Regions from separate parts of the Homo sapiens genome. Here region 1 is linked to region 2. The links come from fine-mapping of genetic effects on gene expression. A gene starts in region 2. The other region holds a variant in brackets. All regions are shown on one strand. Distances are from middle to middle. Region 1 overlaps NUBPL (NUBP iron-sulfur cluster assembly factor, mitochondrial). Region 2 holds the start of NUBPL (NUBP iron-sulfur cluster assembly factor, mitochondrial).

The links. PIP is the estimated chance that this variant, and not a neighbour inherited with it, causes the effect.
Region 1: its variant is fine-mapped to the expression of NUBPL in fibroblasts (GTEx, PIP above 0.99). The same link has a PIP of 0.9 or more in breast.

The regions. Positions count from the first base shown.
Region 1 is chr14:31,684,298-31,689,686 of GRCh38, forward strand. The region is part of intron 6 of NUBPL (NUBP iron-sulfur cluster assembly factor, mitochondrial); the gene reads left to right. It also overlaps the pseudogene RNU6-455P. Among named protein-coding and RNA genes, the nearest start is that of NUBPL, 130 kb to the left of the region's middle. The variant C/T (reference allele first, on the strand shown) is at 3,436.
Region 2 is chr14:31,558,409-31,563,797 of GRCh38, forward strand. NUBPL (NUBP iron-sulfur cluster assembly factor, mitochondrial) reads left to right here and starts at 2,996. Exons shown (of 11, transcript NM_025152.3): 1 at 2,996-3,139; 2 at 3,660-3,807. The coding sequence starts at 3,032. NUBPL-DT (NUBPL divergent transcript) reads right to left here and starts at 2,923. Exons shown (of 3, transcript XR_943720.2): 1 at 2,703-2,923. RefSeq lists enhancers at 2,839-3,238, 3,165-3,720.

The DNA of each region.
Region 1 (5,389 bases), 130 kb after region 2:
ATTTTGTCTGGGTATACTTTTTTTTCACATTTTAACTTATCTTCAATTAAGATGTATTTTGCAATTGATGGCTTTTCAGCATTGCTTTATCCCTGTATTGAAGTGGGGTCCTTTCAGAAAGGTTTTGTATCGTTTTTGCAGTCACCTGGAATGCTTTAACCTGAGGCACTTTCAATTTAATTATCCGTTAGAAGTTTTGGGGACCACTCTGGTGGTATGAATACAGATCGGAAAGCTGCATGTATACCAACTGGTGGTTCATGTTGTTAAGGAGGTGTTTTCTCCCCTCTGCCATGGCCCAAGTTGAGAGATTTCTTTCTAAATTGTGGATTTATATATTATTTATCTTTGGTTTAAGATGATGTAGTCCTTTGGGATCCTAGCTTTATGTAGGATTCTCCTATTAGACCCCAATTTATCTTAGGTGTTTTTTTCGTTTAGTGCTACACAAAATAATGATGCATCTTATAATTAGTGGTGTATTAGATTTGTTGATGTTATAATGGGTATCAACATTGTTACCAGCATTATCCCTGAGACACCTCTTCTGTCATGGCTTGAATTAATGTTGATTATAGTAAGGGAAAGTAATGAATTGAGGACTTCTCTTTGGTTAACATTCATATTTGGAGGTGTGTGATTTAGTGGGAGGAAAAGGAGTTAGTAAACAGGAAAAGAAGTAGTTCAAAAGGTAGGAAAAAACTAAGGATACTAATGTCATGAAGATTAAAGGTTTGGAGCAATGGTTTTCCAACATATCTGTATATTAGAATCATCTAGGGATTTTAAACAATTTTCAAATTTCAGCTCACACCTCAGACCAATTAAATTACAAATCCTGGGCATGTGACCCAGGCATTATCACTTTTGGAACTGTCCACCTGATTCCAGTCTGTGGACAAGTTTGGGAATCACTGGTGTGGAGAGTTTTAAGAATGATAGGTCAGGGAGAACAAGGATTGAGATAGGGCAAGGGAATAATAGATGTTCGGTGGAAATTTGTAAACCTTAACTAGAACAGGGAATGAAAAAAGATTATAGGGGTTTAAGAATACATTTATAACAATACTATGTAGGTAGAGGTGTATTCTACCTATATAGAGAGTATTGTATTCTAAAATAGGCCATTCAAGAATTTGGGGGCTGGGTGAGGGAAAGGAAAGGAAAATAGGATGGTAGCTTAAGGAGGAGTGGTATATTAAATTAAAGCCTTTTTTTTTCTTAAAGAGGACAGCCATACCTTTTACAAGGTGAAAGGATTCAGTGAAGAGGCAGTGAAAATTATAGAAAATGAGAGGATTGTTTTAAAAAATTATGAAAAAGGCAAAAGGGAATAGGATTAAAGGTCAGAGAGGTAAGTTATTTTTGAAAAAGAAGTTCTTCCAAATTTGTGTTTGGAATAGAAAAAAAGGGCAGATAAAGTAATCCCATCCTACCTGACACTAAAAAGAAGTTAACAAAAGGTATTCTTCCCAGTAGACGGGAAAAGATGGTGCATTTATTCAATAGAGCAGTGATGCACAGTTTTTAGTGTTCATGAAAATTACATGGAGAACTGATTTAAAATTCAAATTTATAGGCTTTCTATTCCACTCTCCCACTTGAAGATTTTTATTCAGTAGGTCCCAGGTATGGCCAAGGAATTCACATTTTAATTAGATTATTCCAGGTGACTCTAATGCTGGTGGGTCTAAAATCAGGCTTAGGCATACAATGGTACAGAGGCAGTTCTTTTTAACTGCTTTCAGAGGAATTAAAAAAAAGAGAGATGAGGAGATGAATGATAAGACCCCTGTGTAGCAGCAAAGGCCTACTGGATGCTGAATATCAAAATTTTTACTTTTGCCAAGTTTTTATGACTGTTTTCAATAACTCTTTGAAGCCTGCAAGGTGACATGGGTAAACCTTTTGTTAGATCTAGGATTAGTAACTGGTGTGGCAGAAAGTCCAAAGGAGAAAAATATCCAGGGAATTAATGAGTGGAACACTGAAGTCCTGGTTTCAAGAAAGACAGGTAGTCAAGAGGGATCAGGAGACTGGGTAAAATTGGAGAGATCAAATATGAAACACCTGGAATGAGGAAGAAGCAATTCAGTAGCTGGTAGAAGAAAAGGTGTGAAAAGTGATGGATAAGTTGGTTGTGTTCAGAGGAGGGATATTAGAAACTTAGGCTTTTCTAAAAAATAAAAGAATTTGGAAATGAGGTTATGTGAGGAAAATCAGGTCTCTAGCAAAGCAATAAAAATGTCAAGGATCAAAGTATCACACACTGGGAGCAGGGTTGCCAGGTAATATGTTGGATGCCCAGTTAAGTTTGAGCATCAGACACGCAATGAATAATTTGGGATCTGCCTTTTCTCCATATCCTCGCCAGCATTTGCTATTGCTTTTCATAACAACATGGAATGCTTCACAAATTTATGTGTCATCCTTGTGCAGGGGCCATGCTAATTTTCCCTGTATCATTTCAATTTTAGTATATGTGCTGCTGAAGTGAGCACTTGGGATCTGTCCATACTAAAATATTATTCAGTATGGCTGGGCACTGTGGCTCACACCTGTAATCCCAGTGCTTTGGAAGACCAAGGTAGGAAGATCACTTGAGGCCAGGCGTTTGAGACCAACACGTGCGACATCGCAAGACTCTATCTCTACAAAAAATAAAAAACAGCTGGGCATGGTTGCATGTACCAGTAGTCTTGCTATTTGGGAGGCTGAGATGGGAGGACTGGTTGAGCCTAGGAATTTGAGATTGAAGTGAGCTGTGATCATGCTGCTGCACTCCAGCCTGGGCAACAGAGTGAGACCCTGTTTCAAAAAAAAAATTCATTGTGTATCTCATATTCAGGCATAAATGACTTTGAGTTTCCTGTATAACTGTGTTTGAACTGTTTGAGTCCACTTATATGAGGATTTTTTTCAGTTAACCACATTGGAAAATTTTTTGCAGATTTGGAACAACTTGAAAAAACTTGCAGATGAACCATGTATCTTAGAAATATCAAAAAATTAATAAAACATCACATATGTCATGAATGCCTAAAATATATGTTGATACTAGTGTATTTTATCATGTACTACCTAAAGTATACACAAATCTATTATAAAAGTTAAAATTTATCAAAACTTATGCATACAAAACTTACACACTGTGCATGGTGCCATTAGCAGTCAAGAGAAATGTAAACAAATGTACAGATGTAGTACTACGTTATAACTGCATAAAATTCACTGTACTACATACTATACTGCTGTGATAATTTTGTTAGCTACCTCCTGTTGCTATTGTGGTGAGCTCAAGTGTTGTGAGTATCCACTTAAAATGCTGTGTGCTAATGATCTCTGCGTGAGCAGTTCATTTCTCCAATCAATTATTACAGTAAAAAGTTATGTCTTAGAGTTTTCATGTATTTTTCATTGTGTTTAACATAATAC[C/T]GTGAACCTTGAATAACACCATGGGACCATGTGAAGTGCCACTAGTGATGCTGGAAGTCTCTGAAGAAGTAGAGGAAAATCACAACATTACAAAAAAAAGTTGAATTGCTTGATATGTACCATAGAATGAAGTCTGCAGCTGCAGTTGCTTGCCATTTCAAGATAAATGAATCCAACCTAAGGACCATTGTGAGAAAAGATAAGAAAATTTGTGAAGTTGTTGCTGCAGCTACATTATCAGGCATGAAAACCTTGCACATTTTGCCAAATACCTTTTTACTTTGTATTGAAAATGCAGCTTATATATGAGTGCAGGATTGCTATAGTAAAGCATGCCTGTAGACTCTAATATTATTCAAGAAAAAAATGAAGTCATTATATAACAACTTAAAGCAAAAGATAGCTGAAGAATCTAAAGGTGGAGAATTTAATGCCAGCAAAGTATGGTTTGATAATTTTAGGAAGAGGTTTCCCTTAAAAAAATATCAATGTAACAGGAGAGGCAGTTTCTGCCAGCCAAGAGGCAGCAGATGAGTTCGTGGACATCATTAAGTAAATCACTGGGCCAGGCGCGGTGGTTCACGCCTGTAATCCCAGCACTTTGGCAGGCCGAAGTGGGCAGATCATGAAGTCAGGAGTTTGAGACCAGCCTGGCCAACATAGCAAAACCCCGTCTCTACTAAAAATACAAAAAGTTAGCCAGGCGTGGTGGTGGGCGCCTGTAATCCCAGCTACTCGGGTGGCTGAGGCAGGAGAATCGCTCGAACCTAGAAGGCCGAGGAGGTTGCAGTGAGCTGAGATTGCGCCATTGCACTCCAGCCCGGGCAACAGTGTGAGACTCCATCTCAAAGAAAAAAAAGAAAAAAAAAAAAAAAAGAAAATCTTTGAGGAGAAAGGCTATCTGCCTGAACAGGTTTTTGTTGTTGTTTTTTTTTTTTTTTAACTTTTAGGTTCAGGGGTTCAGATAAGGGTTTGTTATATAGGTAAACTCATTTCAGGGGGGTTTGTTGTACAGATTATTTCATCACCCAGGTACTAAGCCTAGTACCCAATAATTATTTTTCTTTTCCTCTCCCTCCTCCCGCCCTCCACCCTCAAGTAGGCCCCAGTGTCTGTTGTTCCTCTCTTTGTGTCCATGTGTTCTCATCATTTAGCTCCTACTTAAAAGTGAAAACACGTGGTATTTGGTTTTCTGTTCCGGCATTAGGTTGCTAAGGATAGTGGCCTACAGCTCCATCCATGTTCCTGCAAGAGACCTGATCTCATTTTTTTTTTTTGTGGCTGCATTGTATTCCATGGTGTATATGTACCATCTTTTCTTTATTCAGTCTACCATTGATAGGCATTTAGGTTGATTCCGTGCCTTTGCTATTGTGAATAGTGCTGCAGGGAACATACAAGTGCATGTGTCTTTATGGTAGAATGATTTATATTCTTTAGGGTATATACCCAGTAATGGGATTGTTGGGTTGAATGGTAGTTTTGTTTAGCTCTTTGAAGAATCACCATACTGCTTTCCACAATGGTTGAGCTAATTTACACTCCCATCAACAGTGTATATATAAGTGTTCCCTTTTCCCCCCACCCTTGCCAGCATCAGTTATTTTTTGACATTTTAATAATAGCCATTCTGACTGGTGTGAGATACTGTCTCATTGTGGTTTTGATTTGCATTTCCTTAATGATCAGTGATGTTGAGCTTTTATTCATATGCTTGTTGGCTACACATATGTCTTCTTTTGATAAGTGTTCATGTCCTTTGCCCACTTTTTAATGGAGTTTTTTTTTCTTGTAAATTTGTTTAAGTTCCTTACAGATGCTGGATATTAGACCTTTGTCAGATGCATAGTTTGTGAATATTTTCTCTCATTCTGTAGGTTGTCTGTCTAGTCTGTTGATAGTTTCTTTTGCTGTGCAGAAGCTTTTAAGTTTAATTAGATCCGCCTGTCAATTT
Region 2 (5,389 bases):
CTTATGGACCTAAGGATAGGAAGTCCGGTTGAACCTCATTATGAACTGGAACCAGGAACTGAAAAGTTATGAACCAGTGCAGCTCTTCTCCCTTTCCTCTATGGTAACATGATCTCTTATGATCTACTTTCTTCTTCTCTCTTGCATTGGCTTTATCTGCTTCTGCATGCACATAGTAGAAAATAGTAATTTCAACTGTATTAGCTCAAAGACAAACTAAGATTGACTAACACCTGTTACTTTTATTTTCCAGGCTCTCTGGAGAATTAATCTGATTGGTCAATTTTTTGGTTGTACATCAGTCTTTAGTCCAATTAGTGACCTTGGGAATGGGGTCAAATGACTTAGCAATTCTTAGGACCAAAGGAGAATACCCTTTTGAAAAGAGGCCATGGATATGTATATGTGTGTCAGTGTTTTTTGGAGAAGAAACATCTCTACTACTCTCCTAAAATTTTAATTTGGGGAAAGGTAAACCAAAGTAATGATTCAGCCATTCTACAAACATTATTCTCACTTGCTCCTCCTCTTATGTTTTCTCTCAGGGAATTCATCTAGTTGCTCATGTCATAAACCTCTACACAACCAATGATTACCACAATAGCTAACAATTACTAACTCTGTGACAGCTGTTCTACATGCATTATCTTAAGTTCAACCTCACAACAACCATAGAAGTAGGAATTAACTATTTTATTGATAACAAAGTGAAATTTAGAGATGTTAAGTCAAGCCTTCAAGAGAGAGACCTCATGTCTCCTTGTCTCTGATCTTGCCCCGCTGATCCATTTCTTTTTTAACCCAGTAATCATAGTGGTATTTCTAAAACACAAATCTGATGTTACTTTCCTGCTTAAAATCCTTCTATAGTTCCCTTAGGATAAAGTCCAAATTTCTTTACAAGATATATACAGCCTTTCTTGATTTAGGCAACCTCCATCTAACCAACCTTCACTCCATCCTCATCTCTTTTAGTCACTTTGTCCTAAGTTGCACAGATCATTTACAGTTCTTAACAATCCAGAAAAGAAATGTATTTTCTACTCCTCTTGTGTTCTCTCTTCTTTTCTCTCTTCTTTCTTTTTTTATTTTTATTTTTGATATCTTTTTTATTTTTTTATTTTTATTTTTTAGTATTTATTGATCATTCTTGGGTATTTCTCGGAGCGGGGGATTTGGCAGGGTCATAGGACAATAGTGGAGGGAAGGTCAGCAGATAAACATGTGAACAAGGGTCTCTGGTTTTCCTAGGCAGAGGACCCTGCGGCCTTCCGCAGTGTTTGTGTCCCTGGGTACTTGAGATTAGGGAGTGGTGATGACTCTTAACGAGCATGCTGCCTTCAAGCATCTGTTTAACAAAGCACATCTTGCACCGCCCTTAATCCATTTAACCCTGAGTGGACACAGCACATGTTTCAGAGAGCACGGGGTTGGGGGTAAGGTTATAGATTAACAGCATCCCAAGGCAGAATAATTTTTCTTAGTACAGAACAAAATGGAGTCTCCTATGTCTACTTCTTTCTACACAGACACAGTAACAATCTGATCTCTCTTTCCTTTCCCCACATTTCCCCCTTTTCTATTCGACAAAACCGCCATCGTCATCATGGCCCGTTCTCAATGAGCTGTTGGGTACACCTCCTAGACAGGGTGGCGGCTGGGCAGAGGGGCCCCTCACTTCCCAGACGGGGTGGCCGGGCAGAGGTGACTCCACCTCCCGGACGGGGTGGCGGCCGGGCGGGGTCTGCCCCCCACCTCCCTCCGGGACGGGGCGGCTGACCGGATGGGGGCTGCCCCCCACGTCCCTCCCGGACGGGGCAGCTGGCCGGGCGGGGGCTTTTCTCTCTTCTTTCATCTTTCTTCCTTCTACTCTCTTCTTCTTTCTTCTTCCTTCTTCTTTCTTCTCCTTTTAATTTCCTCTTCCTCCTTCCTCCTTCCTTCTTTCTTCTTCTTCTGACAAGGTGTCACTCTGCTGCCCACGCTGGAGTGCAGTGGTGCAATCATAGCTCACTGCATCCTTGAACTCCTGGCTCAAGCAATCCTCTTGCTTTGGCCTCCCAAAGTGTTGGAATTACACGCGTGAGCCACCATGCCTAGCCTTAGCAGTCCATTTCTAACCTCTTTACAACAATCTCCTTGCCATTCTCCCAGCTAACTTCTACACATTATTCAGATTCAGCATTCAGCTTAGATATTACCTAATTTAGAAGCTTCCCCTGATTGAATTGAGTGCCCTTTCTTTGTATCACTTTGTCCTTTCTCCTGTATCCCTCAATGCTTTTCTCCTGTACTTATCATATTATACCGCAATTTTGTTGTTAACTTATTCTGTCTTTTGCACTGGATTATAAAGCCCTTTAGTGGAGGAATTATGTCGGTCTCAATGCTGAATATTTTAAGTCTACTGTAGTACTCGGTACATAGTAGTTGCTCAACGAATATTTGTTAAATAAATGAGTCTTAAGTCTGGAAGAACTTGCAAAGTTCTTTACCAGGTTGCTGGTAAAGCAACCTGACCTTTCTTTCAGGGAACTGTCAGCAACACAAGCCATGAATACCAACGCAAAACAGACTCTCACTGTAGATCACACGGGAAAAAATAAAATAAAAAGGTAAAATCCTTAACGGTGGTAGTATTTAAATGACCATATACTGCTTAGTAAGAAATCCTGGGGTCATTTTCAAGGTCCCCCATTTCCTACTTTTGTTAAGCTGGGTCAAGTCTCTTTAAACTTTCTCCGTTTTCTTGTCCATAAAAAGAGTATACTAGGTAAGTCTTCTGTCTACCTCGGGACTTCTGTAAGTATCATAAGAGATGTTTTATATGACAACACTTCACAAACGTTTAGTAAAACGCTGCAAAATGTTTGTAGCTGGCTATAAACAAGATCATGCAGATTGGGTTCCTGAGCCAACAAACCCAAAGAAGACCGGTTGCTAGGAAGAGAAAGCCGAGCGTTGCTCCGTGACGTCATCACTCCGCGCCACCCGCGACAGTTTCCCAGCAGGGCTCACAGCAGCGTTCCGCGTCATGGGGATTTGGCAGCGTCTGCTGCTTTTTGGTGGGGTGTCGCTCCGGGCTGGTGGCGGGGCCACTGCCCCGCTTGGGGGAAGCCGAGCGATGGTTTGTGGGCGCCAGGTCCGTGGTGCTGCAGGGCAGGGGGAAGCGGGCTGACAGATGCTGGGCTGCAGGGCCGCAGATGCCCTGGCATTGCTTCTTGCCAAAGACTCGCCTCAGTTCCTGAGACCCCCAGTGTGCTGGACGTGCCTACTTTTCAGGCAGGCCCAGGCTGAGGCGTGGCGGGACTTGAAACACAGTTAGAACGTAGATGTGGTATTCTACATTGCTTTCTTGGCTTTGGGTTATTTATCAAATAGATTGAAGAAAAGCAAAACACGTGGAAGCCTTATCTCCGTAAAGAGGCAGCGTTTTTACATTTTTAAACGTTCAGCGTATCCTGCTAGAAAAATTTCAATTTAAGCAATGTGTCTTTACAATTGTTATCAGTAGTAGTAGGTAAATGTCTCCATAGTGAAGATGAGCAGAATTAGAAAAGAAAGCCCTCTTAATTGCAAACCCCAGATTGTTTTTGCTTTTACAGTGTGATGATGGAGATGGCTTATTTAAAACGGCTTTTTATTATTATTATTTTTTAAAGTTGTCTGGCGCCGGGAGTGAGACCCTAAAACAAAGAAGAACACAAATCATGTCCCGAGGACTTCCAAAGCAGAAACCGATAGAAGGTGTTAAACAAGTTATAGTTGTGGCTTCTGGAAAGGGTGGAGTCGGAAAATCTACTACAGCAGGTATTATAGGATATTAATTCTATTCCTGATTAAGAACTTATGCCAACAGACAAGTGCACACTATTGAAATTATAGTTTTGTGTTTTAAAAATTTATTTGTGAAGTTCCTAACATGTGATTCCTTAGTTTCAGGAGTTGGTAGCGGGTAGACGCTTAGATTTTGGAGTTAGACAAAAGTAGGTACTAGCCGGGTCTCCCACCCCTTAACTCAGGAAAAAGTGGTCAGATTGTACAGCAAATCTTCAGTTCACTTAACTGTAAAATGGAGATAACTTCTTTCATAAGATGGTTATTCAAATTGCACAAGCTAACCACTTAGCTTAGTGTTTACTAGTGTTCAATAATTGGTTGCTGTTATTTTTAAAACATCTAGTAACTTTTTTTTTTTGTTTTTTTTTTTTTTTTTGAGACGGAATCTCGCTCTGTCACCCAGGCTGTAGTGCAGTGGCGCAATCTCGGCTCACTGTAAGCTCCGCCTCCCGGGGTTCACGCCATTCTCCTGCCTCAGCCTCCCAAGTAGCTGGGACTACAGGCGCCCACCACCACGCCCGGCTAATTTTTTTTTTGTATTTTTAGTAGAGACGGGGTTTCACCGTGTTAACCAGGATGGTCTCCATCTCCTGATCTCGTGATCCGCCCGCCTAGCCCTCCCAAAGTGCTGGGATTACAGGTGTGAGCCATCGCGCCCTGCCTACTAGCTCATTTTTCCCCATTTTTATCAGAAGGGAATTCTGGAAGAATTTGTCAGATGTTTTGGAAAAGTTAAGATTTACCAAATATTGTATTTGTGGTGGATCACTAATCCATTACTATTTGATAGATACCATATTGTTAAAAAAAATTAATAATCTGTTCTTAATGAATTCATGTGCTCTCCTGCACATTTTTCCTTTCTTTCCTAAAGGTTTACAATCCATCTGGTTGTTTTTAAAATTTAGAAGCTCTTAGTTTTTGGTTCTAGAACCTTTTGGAGTACATTTTTCAGTTTTCAGTGGTTTGAATCCTTTTGCATGCTCTGTGATTACTTGAACTGGATAAGGATGGAAGGTGTTTTCATGATTGTAGCCATAAGTTCTTTGCGTTTTGTAATTTGTTGGGTCTGTAGGCTGGCACTTGTTTAAGATTGTTTGTTTATTATTTTTAGTTGGAAGATGATTGTTGCCATGAAATGTGAAAGCATTTAAACAGGAAAATGTATGAGAAAGTGTACAACATGTGACACGTAATGGGTGCTTCAGTAAATGTCCCTTTCTCACTTTTTTTCTGTTAACATTATACCATCTGTCCCGAAAAGCTGGCCCATACTTTTTCATAACAGCTCTGTGAGCATATCTAAGTCTTAAAAATAGGTTATTTTTATGTAACTCTATTGGTATTATTAATATATTTCTTTTCCTTATATGTATTTATTCCTGCCTCAAACTACTTCAAAATACTTCCCATTTGAATATACATGCTAGAGATGTTTTAGATTAGAATGATGACATTTGACTAATGCAAATATGCTCAGTGATTCTATTGTTTAAATGTAGGAAGAACCTAACTCTAAAATGAATTGCCCTCTGAAAGTTTCTGCCTTAAA